Linked DNA regions of Homo sapiens: region 2 is linked to region 1. Evidence: fine-mapped QTL for protein levels in blood plasma. A gene starts in region 1. The other region holds a variant in brackets. All regions are shown on one strand. Distances are from middle to middle. Region 1 holds the start of ANGPT2 (angiopoietin 2). Region 2 overlaps MCPH1 (microcephalin 1).

Evidence for each region. PIP is the chance, under the fine-mapping model, that this variant and not a neighbour inherited with it causes the effect. The UK Biobank Pharma Proteomics Project read protein levels with antibody pairs (Olink). The fine-mapping took linkage between variants from a reference panel, not from the people measured, so its PIPs are less certain.
Region 2: its variant is fine-mapped to the plasma level of the ANGPT2 protein (UK Biobank, PIP above 0.99).

Annotation. Positions count from the first base shown.
Region 1 is chr8:6,559,569-6,567,568 of GRCh38, reverse strand. It overlaps ANGPT2 (angiopoietin 2), which reads left to right and starts at 4,324. Exons shown (of 9, transcript NM_001118887.2): 1 at 4,324-4,922. The coding sequence starts at 4,635. The region is part of intron 12 of MCPH1 (microcephalin 1); the gene reads right to left. RefSeq lists enhancers at 4,455-4,981, 4,982-5,507 and a silencer at 6,367-6,661.
Region 2 is chr8:6,417,455-6,425,454 of GRCh38, reverse strand. The region is part of intron 3 of MCPH1 (microcephalin 1); the gene reads right to left. Among named protein-coding and RNA genes, the nearest start is that of MCPH1, 15 kb to the right of the region's middle. RefSeq lists an enhancer at 7,295-7,344. The variant G/A (reference allele first, on the strand shown) is at 3,465.

The DNA.
Region 1 (8,000 bases):
CACTTGCATCCCAGGCCACTTCCTGGCCCCTCTCCCCACCTGGCATCCTTAATTCACTTCAGTGTGGCACTTTCTCTAAGCACCTATTCTATCCCGTTAGTAAGCCCCTGTAAGCAGCCACACAGAAGGCTGAGCCGAGGCACCAGTCCTCCCCTGTTCACACGGTGGTCACTGCACCGTGTGCACTATCCATGGCCTTGCCGATCAAACATGGTCACCGCACCGTGTGCACTATCCATGACCTTGCGGATCACACATGGTCATCGCACCGTGTACACTATCCATGACCTTGCGGATCACACACGGTCACCGCACTGCATGCTCTATCATGGCCTTACCGATCACACACGGTCACCGCACCACGTGCACTATCCATGGCCTTGCTGATCATACATGGACACCACGCCACGGGCACTATCCATGGCCTTGCCGATCACACACGGTCACCGCACCGCGTGCACTATCCATGGCCTTGCCGATCACACACGGTCACCACACCGCGTGCACTATCCATGGCCTTGCCGATCACACATGGTCACCGCACCGCGTGCACTATCTATGGCCTTGCCGATCACACACCGTCACCGCACCGCGTGTACTATCCATGGCCTTGCCGATCACACACGGTCACCGCACCGCGTGCACTATCCATGGCCTTGCCGATCACACATGGTCACCGCACCGCGTGTACTATCCATGGCCTTGCTGATCACACATGGTCACCGCACCGTGTGCACTCACTATCCATGGCCTTGCGGATCACACACGGTCACCACACCATAAGCACTGTCGATGGTCATGCCAATCACACATGGTCACCGCAACACGTGCACTATCCATGGCCTTGCCGATCACACACGGTCACCGCACCACGTTCACTATCCATGGCCTTGCCAATCACACAGGGTCACCGCACCACATGCACTATCCATGGCCTTGCCGATCACACATGGATACCACACCACGGGCACTATCCACGGCCTTGCTGATCACACATGGTCACCGTGCTGTGTGCCCTGTTAATGGCCATGCCGACCACAGGTGGTCACTGTACTGTGTGCACTCTCCATGGCCTTGCTGACCACACACGGTCGCTGCACGGCGTACAGTGTCAATAGCCTTGCTCGCCACACACGGTTATTGCACTGTGTGGACTGTGGATGGCCTTGCTGACCACACACGGTGGTTGCTGCACTGTGTGTACTGCTGACAGCCTTGCCAACCACACACGGTCACCACACCGCGTGCACTGTGGACGGCCTTGCCCAGCACCTCCTACCCCCACAGACCACCTAGGCTCTCAGAGGCCAGCAAGCTACAGTCCAGGCCCGGTTTCTAACAGCCTATGAGCTAAGAATGGTTTTTAAACTTTTAAATGATTGCAGAAAATAGAATCTTTCATGATGTGAAAATTACAAGAAATTCAAATTTCAGTATCACGAATAAAGCTTTATTGGAGCCCAGCACGCTCACTCAGTTAATGCTGTCCCACAGCTGCTTTGCACCGCATTACCTTTGAGTGGTGGCGATGGTGGCCGTATAGCCTGCAGAGCCGAAAATAATTACCATCTGACACTGGACAGAGTTTGCCAACTCCGGCTCTACTAGAGCTTCCCCTGACTCTCTGGTTCCGATAATTTCCATTTAGGAATCTACAAAGAGCTGTTCCTTCCATGTTCGGAACTTGAGGGAATTTGAAAAGGATGGAGTCCATGCCAGCTGCACATGGCATATTGTGCACCCGGAAGCATCACTGTCTTTCTTTGTGCTCCGACTGCTCTCTCTTACCACATCCAATTTGTTTATGGGTCTCTCCCTCTCCATACACTATTAGCTTCTTTAGGTCAGACACCCAGTTGCCTTAATCTCTATCCCCAGTGCATAGCATGGTGTCTGACACAAGGCTGGTAGACAAAAAGTACTGTGGTGTGCCCTCTTTCTATTTGTTCCTTTTAAACTACTCTATTTGCCTGGAAGACAACTGAATGACTTTTAAAACCATATATGCAGGCCAGGTACAGTGGCTCACACCTGTGATCCCAGCACTTTGGGAGGCCAAGCAAGAGGATCATTGGATGCCAGGAGTTCAAGACCAGCCTGGGCAACAAGAGTGAGACCCCGTCTCTACAAAAAATAATCTTGAAAAAAGGTAAAACCACATATGTGATATTAATACCTTACAATATGCTTTTTCAAACAGGAAATAAAAAAATTGTACCCTATGCCACTGCCACTGCTTTGCATTCAGAGAATAGCAGAGTTATACTATTTGATGGTGGAAGAACTGATCCCCATTTAATGGAGCATGCCTGTAAAGAAAAGGAACAAATATTTCTAAACATACAATTATATCTTAATCCTAAAAACCCTACAGAGAAAAAATGATCTCCATCTTATGACTAGGGAGACTGAGGCTCCAAGAATGGAAGCATTTGCTGGAGGTCACACAGAAGCAGGGTTCTAACACAGGTCTCATCTTTAAGACCTATATGCTTTCTTCGACGGTGCACTGTCCGGATGGGTATAGCATCTTTAATTGGTTCCCTTAGTGGAAACCATGTCCAGAACCTTGGTGGAATCATACTACCTCTTCTACTAATGAGATCCTTCCAGAGCATGTCTTCCAGCTTTTCTGTGTGACAGAACCCTTTGGTTGTCTGGTGAAGCCTATAAACACCTTCTCAAAAGAAGACACATGCTACTTTATTCCAATGTTCAGTAGCAAGATCTAGGGCTGGGTTTAATAAAAATGTAGTTCTGAGTATTGTGGCAGCAAATAAAAAGAGCTGATTTCTGAGGATGAGAAAGTCACAGATATTCACACTGTTGTTCGTTAACTATTCATTGATAAGGGAAAGGCTGTCTTTCGGTTAGAGCTTAGTAAAAAATAAAGATCTTTTATGGGTAGATGTGGTCTGTTAAGTCAGTGTACCAGCTATTCAGCGCTCACTGGGAATAATAAACCTTGTACCTTGAGAGATAAACCGCAGCAAAGGCAGGGGGCTTTTTCCCTATGTACACTTGGGCTGCTGAGTTAACATATTATTAATCTCTGAAGTATTAAGTTTTAGTTGTTAAAGGAAGTGACTTGCAGAACTTACAGAGCCATAGGATTGAAGGTGAAAAATCTTGTGAGTGCACCCCTTGAATTGCACAGATGAGGACATTAGAGCTTAATTAAAACAGGGAAGTGACTTGCCCGAGTCTAATACCAAGGGGGACTAATGTAATTGATAATGTGTTACAAAATGCTGAGATGTCAACAAATTCTGACACAATAAAGAAGTTTGTGGGCCAGGCATGGTGACTCACACCTGTAATCTCAGCACTTTGGGAGGCCAAAGGCGAGTCGATCACAAGGTCATGAGTTTGAGACCAGCCTAACATGGTGAAACCCTGTCTCTACTAAAAATACAAAAATTAGCCGGGTGTGGTGGCGTTTGCCTGTAATCCCAGCTGCTCAGGAGCCTGAGGCAAGAGAATCACTTGAACCCGGAAGGCGGAGGTTGCAGTGAGCCAACATTGCCCCACTGCACTCTAGCCTGGTCGACAGAGCGAGACTCCGTCTCAAAAAAAAAAAAAAAAAAAAAAAGTTTGTATTCCTCTTTCTACACAGGCACTTAAATTCTAATTTCTCTATTGTAATGTAATGAACTTAATCAGTACAGTGTATTTTTAGAGTGAATATCCAAGTGGAGTTTTTTTAAAGAATAAAGGTCAGAGCTCAGAAACTGATGTTTCTAACGTGACTTAATAACAGATCTTTCTATCCAACTGTTCGGAAATGAAAATCTTTTGTAACTTGGCTAGTGGTTCAAGAATCAACTAAAATCAATGAATCTATTTTTCCCTCTGAAAAGGCACACGTTTACAGGAGCCAAACTTCTTCCTCTTTATTTGTAATAACAAAAATAAACCGAAGTCCTGACCTATTTGTAATATTTTTATTCCTAAAGGAAAAAACAGGAACTTTCATTGTACTTCAACATTAAAGTTATTACCTCAGATATTTTGCCAGCTTAGCACGGCAAAAATCAGTTTCAGACAAAAGAGATCAACTGCTCTCTCTAGGAAATACTTAATTGGGGTGGTGCCTAGGAAATGCCCAGGGGTCCTGTAACAGATCGGTTTTTCCCAGAGGGTTTCTGCAGCATGGGTCCTGGTTGGAGGGCAGGCATTCTGCTCTGATTTTTCCTGTTGCCTGGCTAGTGACCCCCTACAGGAAGATAACGGCTAAGCCAGGAGGGCGGAGCAGCCCACTACACATGTCTGGCTGCTCTTATCAACTTATCATATAAGGAAAGGAAAGTGATTGATTCGGATACTGACACTGTAGGATCTGGGGAGAGAGGAACAAAGGACCGTGAAAGCTGCTCTGTAAAAGCTGACACAGCCCTCCCAAGTGAGCAGGACTGTTCTTCCCACTGCAATCTGACAGTTTACTGCATGCCTGGAGAGAACACAGCAGTAAAAACCAGGTTTGCTACTGGAAAAAGAGGAAAGAGAAGACTTTCATTGACGGACCCAGCCATGGCAGCGTAGCAGCCCTGCGTTTTAGACGGCAGCAGCTCGGGACTCTGGACGTGTGTTTGCCCTCAAGTTTGCTAAGCTGCTGGTTTATTACTGAAGAAAGAATGTGGCAGATTGTTTTCTTTACTCTGAGCTGTGATCTTGTCTTGGCCGCAGCCTATAACAACTTTCGGAAGAGCATGGACAGCATAGGAAAGAAGCAATATCAGGTCCAGCATGGGTCCTGCAGCTACACTTTCCTCCTGCCAGAGATGGACAACTGCCGCTCTTCCTCCAGCCCCTACGTGTCCAATGCTGTGCAGAGGGACGCGCCGCTCGAATACGATGACTCGGTGCAGAGGCTGCAAGTGCTGGAGAACATCATGGAAAACAACACTCAGTGGCTAATGAAGGTAGGAAAAAAATCCATCTGTCTTTGTGAACATGCTATTAAGATCAGCTTGGCAGCAGCTCAGGTTTTAACAACCAAAAAAAAAAAAAAAAAAAGAAGGAGGATGAAGAGGATTAGAGCTGGAGAGCGGGTTGCTGGTACCCTCAAATGAAAGATAATTTCTTTTATTCTATCCCAGGGTGTGTGGGTAGTCCCCGGGGTGAAAATAATTATTTGGAAAGAATGCCAGAGTCAATACAGAAAATCTCTAAAGTTAGAAATCTTTATTAACAAGGTAGAGGAAATATACTTCCCTGCACAACTTGTGTGCCGTTCTGTTTGTTTACATCGTTTAAGCTCAGTAACACCCATCACCAGGGAGGCTCTCAGCTGGTTGCAGGCAAGTGAGGGAAGGCTGTGAGCCGCAGCAGCCCGTGAGCCAGAGAGACCGTGACAACCATGCTGATGACCGAGGCATAACGGATGGAGTAAAGTGCTTTACCAATTTCCTGAATTTATTTACTAAAATAGGTTGTGACTCTTGGTAAACGAGAGGAAATTAAATAAAGCAGACCTTATGTTTCTCAGAATCTCAGGGCCCTACCACTAAGGGCTTGCCGTCTGTAAACAGGGGCACAGTTCCCAAGCGTCCCAGAGGTATTCAGCACTGCAGCCCCCGTCAGTTCCAGCAACCGGTGCGGAATGCGTCCCCACGTGGGACGGTTATGTTCAAGTCATGCCACGACAGGACGGTCTGTCTGACAGTTTGTTCTTGGGGTGATTCCACTGTTTCACAGATGATCCCACTGTTTCCTAGAGTTTTTATGGAGACGTAACCAAAATAGGATATTGAAAGCTCTGTTTTTCTTTCATAAATAATTTTTTTTCACATGTAAACATGGGAGCTATTTATACAAAATCCAAAACGAACCTGGAATTTTCTTTATATGGACTATATATATTCTAAAGGAAGTTTAAACAAAATGCATAAATTAATTGTTAAGTAGCATGATGATGCCATTACATCACAATGCTTACATGGCAGGGAATGTGATTATCTAAAGCTATGTAAAGTCTTTTAAAAGTTGGTGAGCCTCATTTGACGCATGACCCTAGAAAAAGCACAATTATTTTCTCACTCTTTCATTTCACCATAAACCTTTTGTTAGGACACCTTATCTGAATCTCAGAACGGATCTTGGAGCCTAATCGGTGCTCCTCATTACCTCCCCTACCTTCAGAGAGGAAACGACTAAGTTATTATTTGAGTCATGAGCTTAAATGAATGAATGTGAATGAATGTTCCCAGCACCACTGGTTACTGTGTCAAGAGGAGTCATTTAAAACAACAAAAACTTACCAAAATGACCTATCAAATGTAGATTTCATGTGACATAAAACTCACTAGCAATGTCTTTTTAAGCTCCTGGCTAAGCGCTCCAGTAAGTTTCCCTCCTTTCCCAGGTCACTGTGGTTTGCTTTTAAACATCTTCTAAAATTCATAGCTGTGTGAATAATTACGCTAAGCTTAAAAAGTATGCAGCAACACAGGTTGAAATATGTGGAAGGCAAACTATATCCTAAATATCTGCTTAACTTGAACTTCCTATTTCTTTGTAAACCGTCAAGCTGATGGTTAATGGCTTTCCCACATCCACCGTGGTTACAGAGTCACAGCGAGGCATGAAAGATGCACTGCAGTAAATATTCTAATCTGCCCGACAGGCAGGTCATCTCCTCGAAGAAACAGCCAGGAAACATAAAAGAATGCTAGGCCAAATGCAAGGCTGCTACATTGTATTTGCTTAATTAACTTACATTAGGTATACCTGAAACTCCATAAGCAAAGCTCATATTTCTTTCTTAGGTAAACTACCCCTTCTCTTGGGTCTTTGAGATAACATTTAAAGACAGAAAAAGACAACGAGTTCTATGTTAGGCGACCAAAATTTCTTCCTTTCCAGGTTCACTTAGTCAATATTTGAACAGCAGTAGCACAATGGTATTTCAAAAGTCCGTCTTCAGCTGTCTAGCTAAATACCGTTTCCCCAAGAATGACTTAATGTTTATCTTTTCACGGGCTCCACACCTGTTCTCCCAGCCTATCTCAGCAACGTGCACCTGAGAAAGGCAATTTGCACTCTCGCTCGGTTTACGGCTTCTGGCTTGGGAATGAAAACAAAAAAGCAAAGATGAAACCCACTTAAAGTGATTAAATGTAACCTCACTGTTTGTTTTTCTCCTGTGTTTTGTCACCTGTGATAATAAACACTGATTTTCTCATGAGGAAGAAAATAATATAAAATGGAATGAGAGATAAGCCACACAGTTAAAGGGTTATCATTACAACCTAACACCCACTGATTTAATTAGCACAGAAAGCAGCAGCACAATTCTGGGTTTTTCATGGTTTTACATATTTTCTTTTGAGCTATTTTTTGAAAAAAATGTTTCCATATCTCCTTTCTCTCCTGGATCAGCACTAAAAATGAAAGATTCAAAAACAACCCACTACAAAATCCGTACACTTTTAGGAAATTAAAACATGTGTCAGGAAGGAAACTAAGACCAAGTTTCTGGTTCATTTTAGGGCAAATAAATAGTAGTTCAACCTCTGAGTGGTCAGCATAGCCTAGGGAGCTTAGACTAAGAAAGCAGGTTTCACATCATCAAAAGGTCCCACGCTGCCCCTTTAATCTGTCCGGCAAAGGAAGTGTCAGGCTTCTGAATGAACTCAGAGGAATATGAATGGAACAATACAGGACAGCTTACTCACTGTGTAGTAGTTAAACAAGGATCAGATAAACTCATGATCGCTAGCACACAAAACACACTGCAGTGGACCAAACACTACTCATGCTACGTCTCTCTTGCTAATCCTGCAACTAGTGTGAACCTCTGCCCTGGTGATATTAAACACACTTTATAAAAACTCACAAATAATTTAGCAAAATGGATTGTATTTTGCTAGGAGACCACAGGAATTTTTTTTTCTGATAAGAGGAAATATGGAAAGGAAAGAACTATTTCACACTGATGAGTGCCTCATACCTATAAACAACTGCAGTCTATGAACACGTTAAAACAGAATGATTTGAAA
Region 2 (8,000 bases), 140 kb after region 1:
ACAGCTATGCTTTAGCACACGTGGTAACACATTAAAGCTGCTACACTGAAACCCATGTTTACCAGGGGTCCAACCAAAATCTACTGAACAGACAAAAAAGCTTCCAGTTAGATTTCTATTTTTCTTCAGAAATGTAAAATGATAACATTATCCCACCATCTAGTGGTCAAAACGAAAAGTGTTTCAAGAGATGTCTCTAAACAGAGAACCAACTATTTGACCTGCTGCTGCCTCAGAGCCAACAGAAATCAAAGCAGCAACGTTCTCCTCGGGAAGCCGTGCTGTGATGAGCTTATTCTCCCCAGAGAGCCGATTCACTCCAGCACTTCCCACAGTACACCTGCTAGGTCGGCCAGGAACCACCGACTCTCATTCTACCCTTAGGACGATGCCTTCACCTGGGCCAATCCTGCATTCTTTATGCTACTCTTGTGCCAAACTGCCCAGCACCAGTATCTTATTCTCTAGGCCCAGTCAGTAAGTCAATTCAGGAAAAGTACATTAATCTTTTTTGTAAACGGCACTGTGTTAGTGAGGTAAAAAAGTGAATGGCATCTCCTTGAAGATTCCAGCCGCGAAGCACGCTATCCTTCACGTGTGTCCCTGACACACAAGGAAGAACACAGGAGACTCAGAGAAGTCTGCACAACAGTGCTCTGCCAGCAGAGAGCGAACTTCTGTGGTCTAGCACTAAATAACCGTAGGAAGTTAACTCAGGAGCTACTGGAGGAACCTAGAGCCCAGCAGTTGAGTAATTTGCCCAGTCCTAAATGGCTACACATCCACTGTTACACATTGATGTGATATTAGGAGGACACATCAGACCGTTCCAAACTGAGGGACGTTCCTATCACTGGTCAGTGACCTTAAACAGTGTCAAAGTCACAAAAGCCAGTGAAAGACTAAGGAATGGCTGCAGGGTGAGAAGGCTGAGGAGGCGGGAAGTGGAGCTGGCTGCTGGTAGGATAGGAATGGAGTCTGAGGATTCCGGGAGGAAAGGAGCCGTGGTAAGCCCCTAATGTCGGCCTGTGTTGTGGTTATGCAGGAATATGTCCCTGTTTCCAGCAAACACTAAATGCAGGGGGTGATGGCCTTCGGTCAGCAACCAACTCTCAGCCTAGCAAGGACAAAGCCTGTGAACCGTATTCCCCACCTAGCTGTTAGTTTGCAGTTGTTTAAAAATGATAAATTGTCTTCAACAGAACTTAGAGTGGGGGCCAAGCTGACCTTTATTTCAACTTTATGTATTCTTTCTTCAAGGTAAAAATTTCTACATCCAAAGGAAATGTCAGAATTTTATCAATTGCCATCTGATCTTAAAATGAACACTCCCAGAAGGAACCCAACAGAATGGGATTCTAGTGACACCTAGTGACCTTATGAAGTTAATGTTCACATTTTCAGTGGAAACCATGAGCTACTGCATTGGAAAGGCAGGCAGTTCACCAAGAAAGGACAGACGTGACATAAAAAATGCAGGTCAGTTTGGCTCTTATCTCTATGCTCTGCTGAAGAAAATTCAAGCTCACTAAAAGTCAGAGAAATGCAAATAAAAACTATTATTTTTCTTCTACAAATTAGAAAGAAGAACTGATAACTCACAACATTAGCAAAGGTATTGGGAAACATGCATTTTTTTGATAATTCCAGTGAGAATGGAAACCAGTACACTCCTTCCAGAAGATAATTTGGCAGCATCTATCATATTTAAATATGTAAACTCTCAGAAATGAACAGCCCACTTTGGGGATTTAAACCTATGGAAAGATTTATCACCCGCAAAAAGGTAATACATACAGAAGCTCAATGCTGTAATATTTCTAATTGAAAAAAATAACTAAGAAATGAAAAACTTCAATCACCAATAGGACACTGCTTACATAAATTACTGGACAGCTACTACAAAATATTCTTATATATATAAAGTGGGATGCATCTGCATGTACAGGCAAAAAAATGACCTGTAATAAAAAGTTGACTAAAGTGTATGGGCCGGGCGCAGGGGCTCATGCCAGTAATCCCAGCACTTTGGGAGGCCGAGGCGGGCGGATCACAAGATCAGGAGATGGAGACCATCCTGGCTAACACGGTGAAACCCCGTCTCTACTAAAAATACAAAAAAATTAGCCAGGCGTGGTGGCGGGCGCCTGTAGTCCCAGCTACTCAGGAGGCTGAGGCAGGAGAATGCAGTGAGCCAAGATTGCACCACTGCACTCCAGCCTGGGCGACAGAGCGAGACTCAGTTTCAAAAAAAAAAAAAAAAAGAAAAGAAAAGAAAAATGCCAAAAGATTAAGTTCACTTTTGAGCTTCTGAGGACCTTAAAAGTGTGCTTTTGCCAGGCACGGTGGCTCTTACCTGTAATCCTAGCACTTTGGGAGGCCAAGGTGGGCGGATCACCTGAGGTCAGGAGTTAAACCAGCCTGGCCAACATGGTGAAACCCTGTCTCTCCTAAAAATATAAAAATTGGCCGGGCACAGTGGCTCACGCCTGTAATCCTAGCACTTTGGGAGACCGAGGAGGGCGGATCACAAGGTCAGGAGATCGAGACCATCCTGGCTAACACAGTGAAACCCCGTCTCTACTAAAACCACAAAAAATTAGCCGGGCGTGGTGGCGGGCTCCGGTAGTCCCAGCTACTCGGGAGGCTGAGGCAGGAGAATGGCATGAACCCAGGAGGCGGAGGTTGCAGTAAGCCGAGATCGCACCACTGCACTCCAGCTTGGGCAAGAGAGTGAGACTCAGTCTCCAGAAAAGAAAAAGAAAACTTTGCTTTTGGATAACGAAGTTACAAGTATTATGGGGTCTGCATGAGCCCCTTGAGAAAGGCTGGGGTTAGTGGTGGGCAGAAATAGAGAGAGAGAGAAAGGGGATAGAGAATGAGTCAGGGGCTGGGCCAGCAAAGCAGAGTAAGAATCCCTAACTCTCAGCAGAACACACTACCAGTGACCATCCCCATTGTAGGGTTAGCTGAGAGGCCCTATTAGGTACAGAAATGGCTACTATTTTAATTTTGTCCATGCATCTCCATTTACTTCAAGCTTCTAGTAAAGGTCTCTGTTTCTGCACTCTCCCCTCCACATTTCTATACGACTTTTAAAATGTAGTTTTTTTTCAAATCATTTTCCCCCATGATATTTTCTCTAGTATCTCTACGCCACTTAACTAAATTTTCCTTTGTTCATAATTTGTTAGAACAAATATTTACTGAGCATCTACTATGAGCCAGATGAATGTTAGACTTACTAGAAACACAACCATAAATAAGACAGACAGGTAGCTGCTCTTGGAATCCACATTACAATAGAAAGACAAAATGCATGATTAGATACACAGACAGATAAAGCAGTCAAATGAACAAAATAAGTTTTAATAGTACACACAGGAAAAAAGGAGCTGAGACAGAGAATAACAAATAGGGCTTGAACTGTGAACTGGGGACAGAGGAAGCTCTTCTGATAAAGC[G/A]ACCTTGCAATGCAACATGTATAAAGGAGCTGACTACAAAACTGGGTTTAGAATCAGGAAGACGGGGCAGAGTTCTCAGCACAGGCCAAGAACTAAAGGCAGAAAGAGTGTAGCCTTGGGGACGTGGAAGCCCAGAGCATTTGGAAGACGCAAACAAGGGAGAGGGGAGCAGCTGACAATGGAAGGGAAGGGGACCATCATGCAGCACACTGGACCTGGGTCAGCAAACTTCTGTAAAGGGGAAAGTAGTGAATGCCTTAGGCTTCGTGGGCCGTAAGGTCTCTGCCACAGGATCCAAATCTACAGCTGTAGTACAGAGGCAGCCACTGACTACATCGTCAGATGAACATGCCTGTGTTCCAATAAAACGGTATTTATGGATACTAAAATTGAATTTCATATAATGTAAATATCATGAAATAGTAAACATTTGAATTTTTTTTTTCTCTTAACCATTCTTACCTCATGGGCCATTAAAAAAAAATAAACAGTATGGCAGGGTGGATTTGGCTGGGGGATGATAGTTGGCCATTCTCTGCTATAGACCACTGAACTCTAAGCCATTTTGTCAGAAGGATAAAGCTGATCCATGTGTTGAAGTATTACAGGTAGTTAGGCATAAGCCCGGCAGGAGAGGCCTCTACCACCCACTAGGAATGTTGGGTGATAGCTCAACAATTATCACATTGCCTCTCTAAAAGTGATAAATTGGCAGCCAGAGCCAGGGAGAGGCCATTTCCTGACAGTCCACACCTGTTGTGCTAAAGTGTTAACTGAATGCAGACGCCAGGGAGAGGCCATTTCCCGGGCATGCACATTAAGAGACAAAATGGCGGAGAAACGGGAAGAAAGCTTCAGATGGGCACCCACACAACTTCCTAAACAAGCTGCCTGTGCTCAATTCCCGCACTGTGCATGCGGGCAGCCCACCCTAAGGGAAGAACTGCGGAAAAGGGCGAGCCTACAAATCCCAGGATCAAGGTTAAACATCAAATTAGACCTCCATGCCCGCCTGGGACTCTTCCCAGTGTACTTTCCTTTCTTTCTGTTCTGACGCCTTTTAAATAAACTTCTGCTCCTGCTCTGACCCTTGCGTCAGTCTCTTCTTTTGCCTTATGCTCCTCCGTGGAATTCTTTCTTTTGAGGAAGCAAGAACTGAAGTTGCTGCAAACCCATACGTGTTTGCTGCCGGTAACTTGGATACCTTCCACTGGTAACAAAAGGGGTTACATTTGCTTATGTATAAGAAACAAAATGAAACAGACAGGCATGAGGCTGCTACAGTAACTGAAGCAAGACATGATACTTGTCTCGACTGTAACAGCAGAGATAAAGATCTATGAGAGATCGATTTTGAGATAAAAATCAATAAGCCATTTCAATGGACTCCATAAGAAGATGAGGTAGAGAAAACAATGATGGCTGGCTGATACTGAGTCTTACCCCATTCCCTCCCCGAAAAAAAAGCAGAAAATAAAAAAGAAACTTAAATAAAAGACACATATGACCTACATTCTCACTGACACGGAGATAACAGCGCAAATTCAGATGACCTATAAGTAGAAAAATAATCAAATTCCAACACAGCTGCAAGTCTATGGATGCAGAAAGTCGGGGAGAATACGCTTAAGACTCCATAAAAAGTAGTACAGCCTGGAGAACTTACATGAAGCACAGGTAAAAGAAGTCTCAGAAAGAGGACACCCAGCACAACTGCCACAACAGAGAACCCACACAGCTCACAGCACCCACTCCAGGGAAGGGGTCTGAATGGGAGCAAGACTAGGACAGGCAGGCTCTGAAAAACATCAGTTCTGGGGGGAGTGGCAGCCCTTGAACCAATGGCAGTGAAAAAAAGAAGAAACTAAGAGAAAAACATTTAAGGATCCTATAGAAACAAAACGCAAACGAGATACACGAGCCCCTCCCTCCTCCCTCCCTCACCAGCATCACCTATAAAAGAAACTATGCAAGACAGCAGAACTGACAGAAGAGGACGCTCTGGCCACAAGCCTGGCCTATGCAATGAATGGAAATAGAATAGACTACATCCATTTTAAAAATCTATTTTAAAAAAACAAAGAAAAAGCAAATCATTTCAGCTGAGGAAAACCCATCACACTCCCTAAAATAAAAGCAAACACAAAACTGAAGAATATAACAAAACCCTTGAACTTGAATCAAATATTATCAGCTGGGTGCAGTGGCTCACACCAGTAATCCCAGCACTTTGAGAGGCTGGAGTGAGTGGATCACTTGAGCCCAGCCTGGCCTACATAGTAAGATCCCATCTCTATAAAAAAAATTCTTTAATGCCGGGTTGCACTTTGGGAGGCCAAGGCAGGTGGATCACAAGGTCAGGAGATCAAGACCATCCTGGCTAACACGGTAAAATCCCATCTCTACTAAAAATACAAAAAAAAAAAAAAAATTAGCCAGGTGTGGTGGTGGGCGCCTGTAGTCCCAGCTACTCGGGAGGCTGAGGCAGGAGAATGGCATGAACCTGGGAGGCAGAGCTTACAGTGAGCCGAGATTGCGCCACTGCACTAGGCCACAGAGCAAGACTCCATCTCAAAAAGAAAAAAGAAAAAAAAAATTTTTTAATGGCTGGGCATGGTGGCACATGCCTACAGTCCCAGCCACTAGGGAGGGCTGGGGTGAGAGGACTGATTGAGCCTTAGAGGTCAAGGCTGCAGTAAGCTGCAACTGAGTCATTGCATTCCAGCCTCGGCAACAGAGCAAGACCCTGTCTTCAAAAAACAAAAACAAATACTGTCAAATAAGTATTTGGGGTAAAAATGCGTGTGTGTGTGTGTGTGTGTGTGTGTGTGTGTGTGTCTGTGTGTGTGTGTGTGTGTGTGTATGTGTATATAAATATAAAAGGGTTGAAGTCAAGTTGACTGAAATAAAAGATAGCTAAGCAGGCCCAACGTAAACATAATTGGAGTCCCAGAAGAAAAGCAAAACAACGAAGCAGAATATTTAAAACTATAATCCCAGAAACTTTTGCAGAAATATAGACCTGAATCTGTTGAAAAGGCCAAGCCAGAACTGGAATGATCAATTCAAAACATATTACAGTAAAGCCATGAGTCTTAAAAAAAAAATCCTGGCCGGGCGCTGTGGCTCACGCCTACAATCCCAGTACTTTGGGAGGCTGAGGCAGGCAGATCACGAGGTCAGAAGATCAGGATCATCCTGGCCAACATGGTGAAACCCCGTGTCCACTAAAAATACAAAAATTAGCTGGGCGTGGTGGCACGTGCCTGTGATCCCAGCTACTCGGGAGGCTGAGGCAGGAGAATCGCTGAACCAGGGAGTAGGAGGTTGCAGTGAGCACAGATCGCGCCACTGCACTCCAGCCTGGCGACAGAGCGAGACTCCGTCTCAAAAAAAAAATGATAAAATAAAAAATATCCCTAAGGAGTCTCCAAAAAGATCAAATAATGTTGAAGGGAAGAAGAATTAGACTGGCATCAGATGCTTCAAAAATAACATACTAAGTTCCATTTCTGTTTATGCCTAACAAACCAATATACAAATATAGGTGAACTATAAGCTATACGTCCTGGAAATACAGGAAAAATAAAATAAAATAAACCAACTATGTGAGAGCTTTGAAAGCTGGAGGGAAATAAAAGAAAAAGAAAGAACAGGCAAATTTTAAAAGGAAGCAAAAGAATCTGGGCATCACCACTTTTTCTGTCTGTCCCCTAAAGGCAGCCACAGTCTCTGAGGGAGCTGGTGTGGCGCAGCAAGCACTCAAGCAGAAGCTCCGGCCTCCTTTCTCGCTGAAGAGACCAGGGGAAGGAGACTGGGCAGCTAGGGCTACTAGAGAAATGAGGTAAGGACTCAGGAAGTAAGAGAACCATAGGAGAAACCCCAAATTCTGAGTATAGAAGTTCAAGTCTCTGGCTGACCCCTGAACAACATGTGTTTGAGGCAAACAAATCAGCCTGCACCTGAGGCTTAAAGGGCGCATCTAAGCAACTGCCCACATAATGACAGTGTGCGTTTCATTTTAACGACAAGTTAACTGCTTGCTAAAACAAAAACCTCATGCTCTTTGCGACAATAGAAAAGAATCCAGAGTCTACATAGTATTTACAACGTGCAAAATACAACCTCAAATTATTTGCCATATGAAGAGCCAGAAAAATGTGACACACTATCAAAGAAAAACAAAAACAAAACAGATACCAACCTCAAAATTATCAGACAAGGTCATTAAGACAACTATTTATAACTACACTCATCGAGGTAATAGAAAATACACTCATAACCGAAGACAGGAAAACCAAAGGTGAGAAATCTCACATGAAACCGAAATAAAAAGAATGTATACAAAAACCAACTAGAAATGTTAGAAATCAAAAATATCTCAAATAAAGGTACTAAGTAGCAGAATGGATTTGATGGAGAAAAAAGTCAATGAACTTGAAAAAAGATCAATCTGAGGAGAAAAAAAAAGACTGAACAATAATGAAGAAGAAGGAGAGCACTATGGACAAATGCAAACGTTTAAAAGGTGTATTA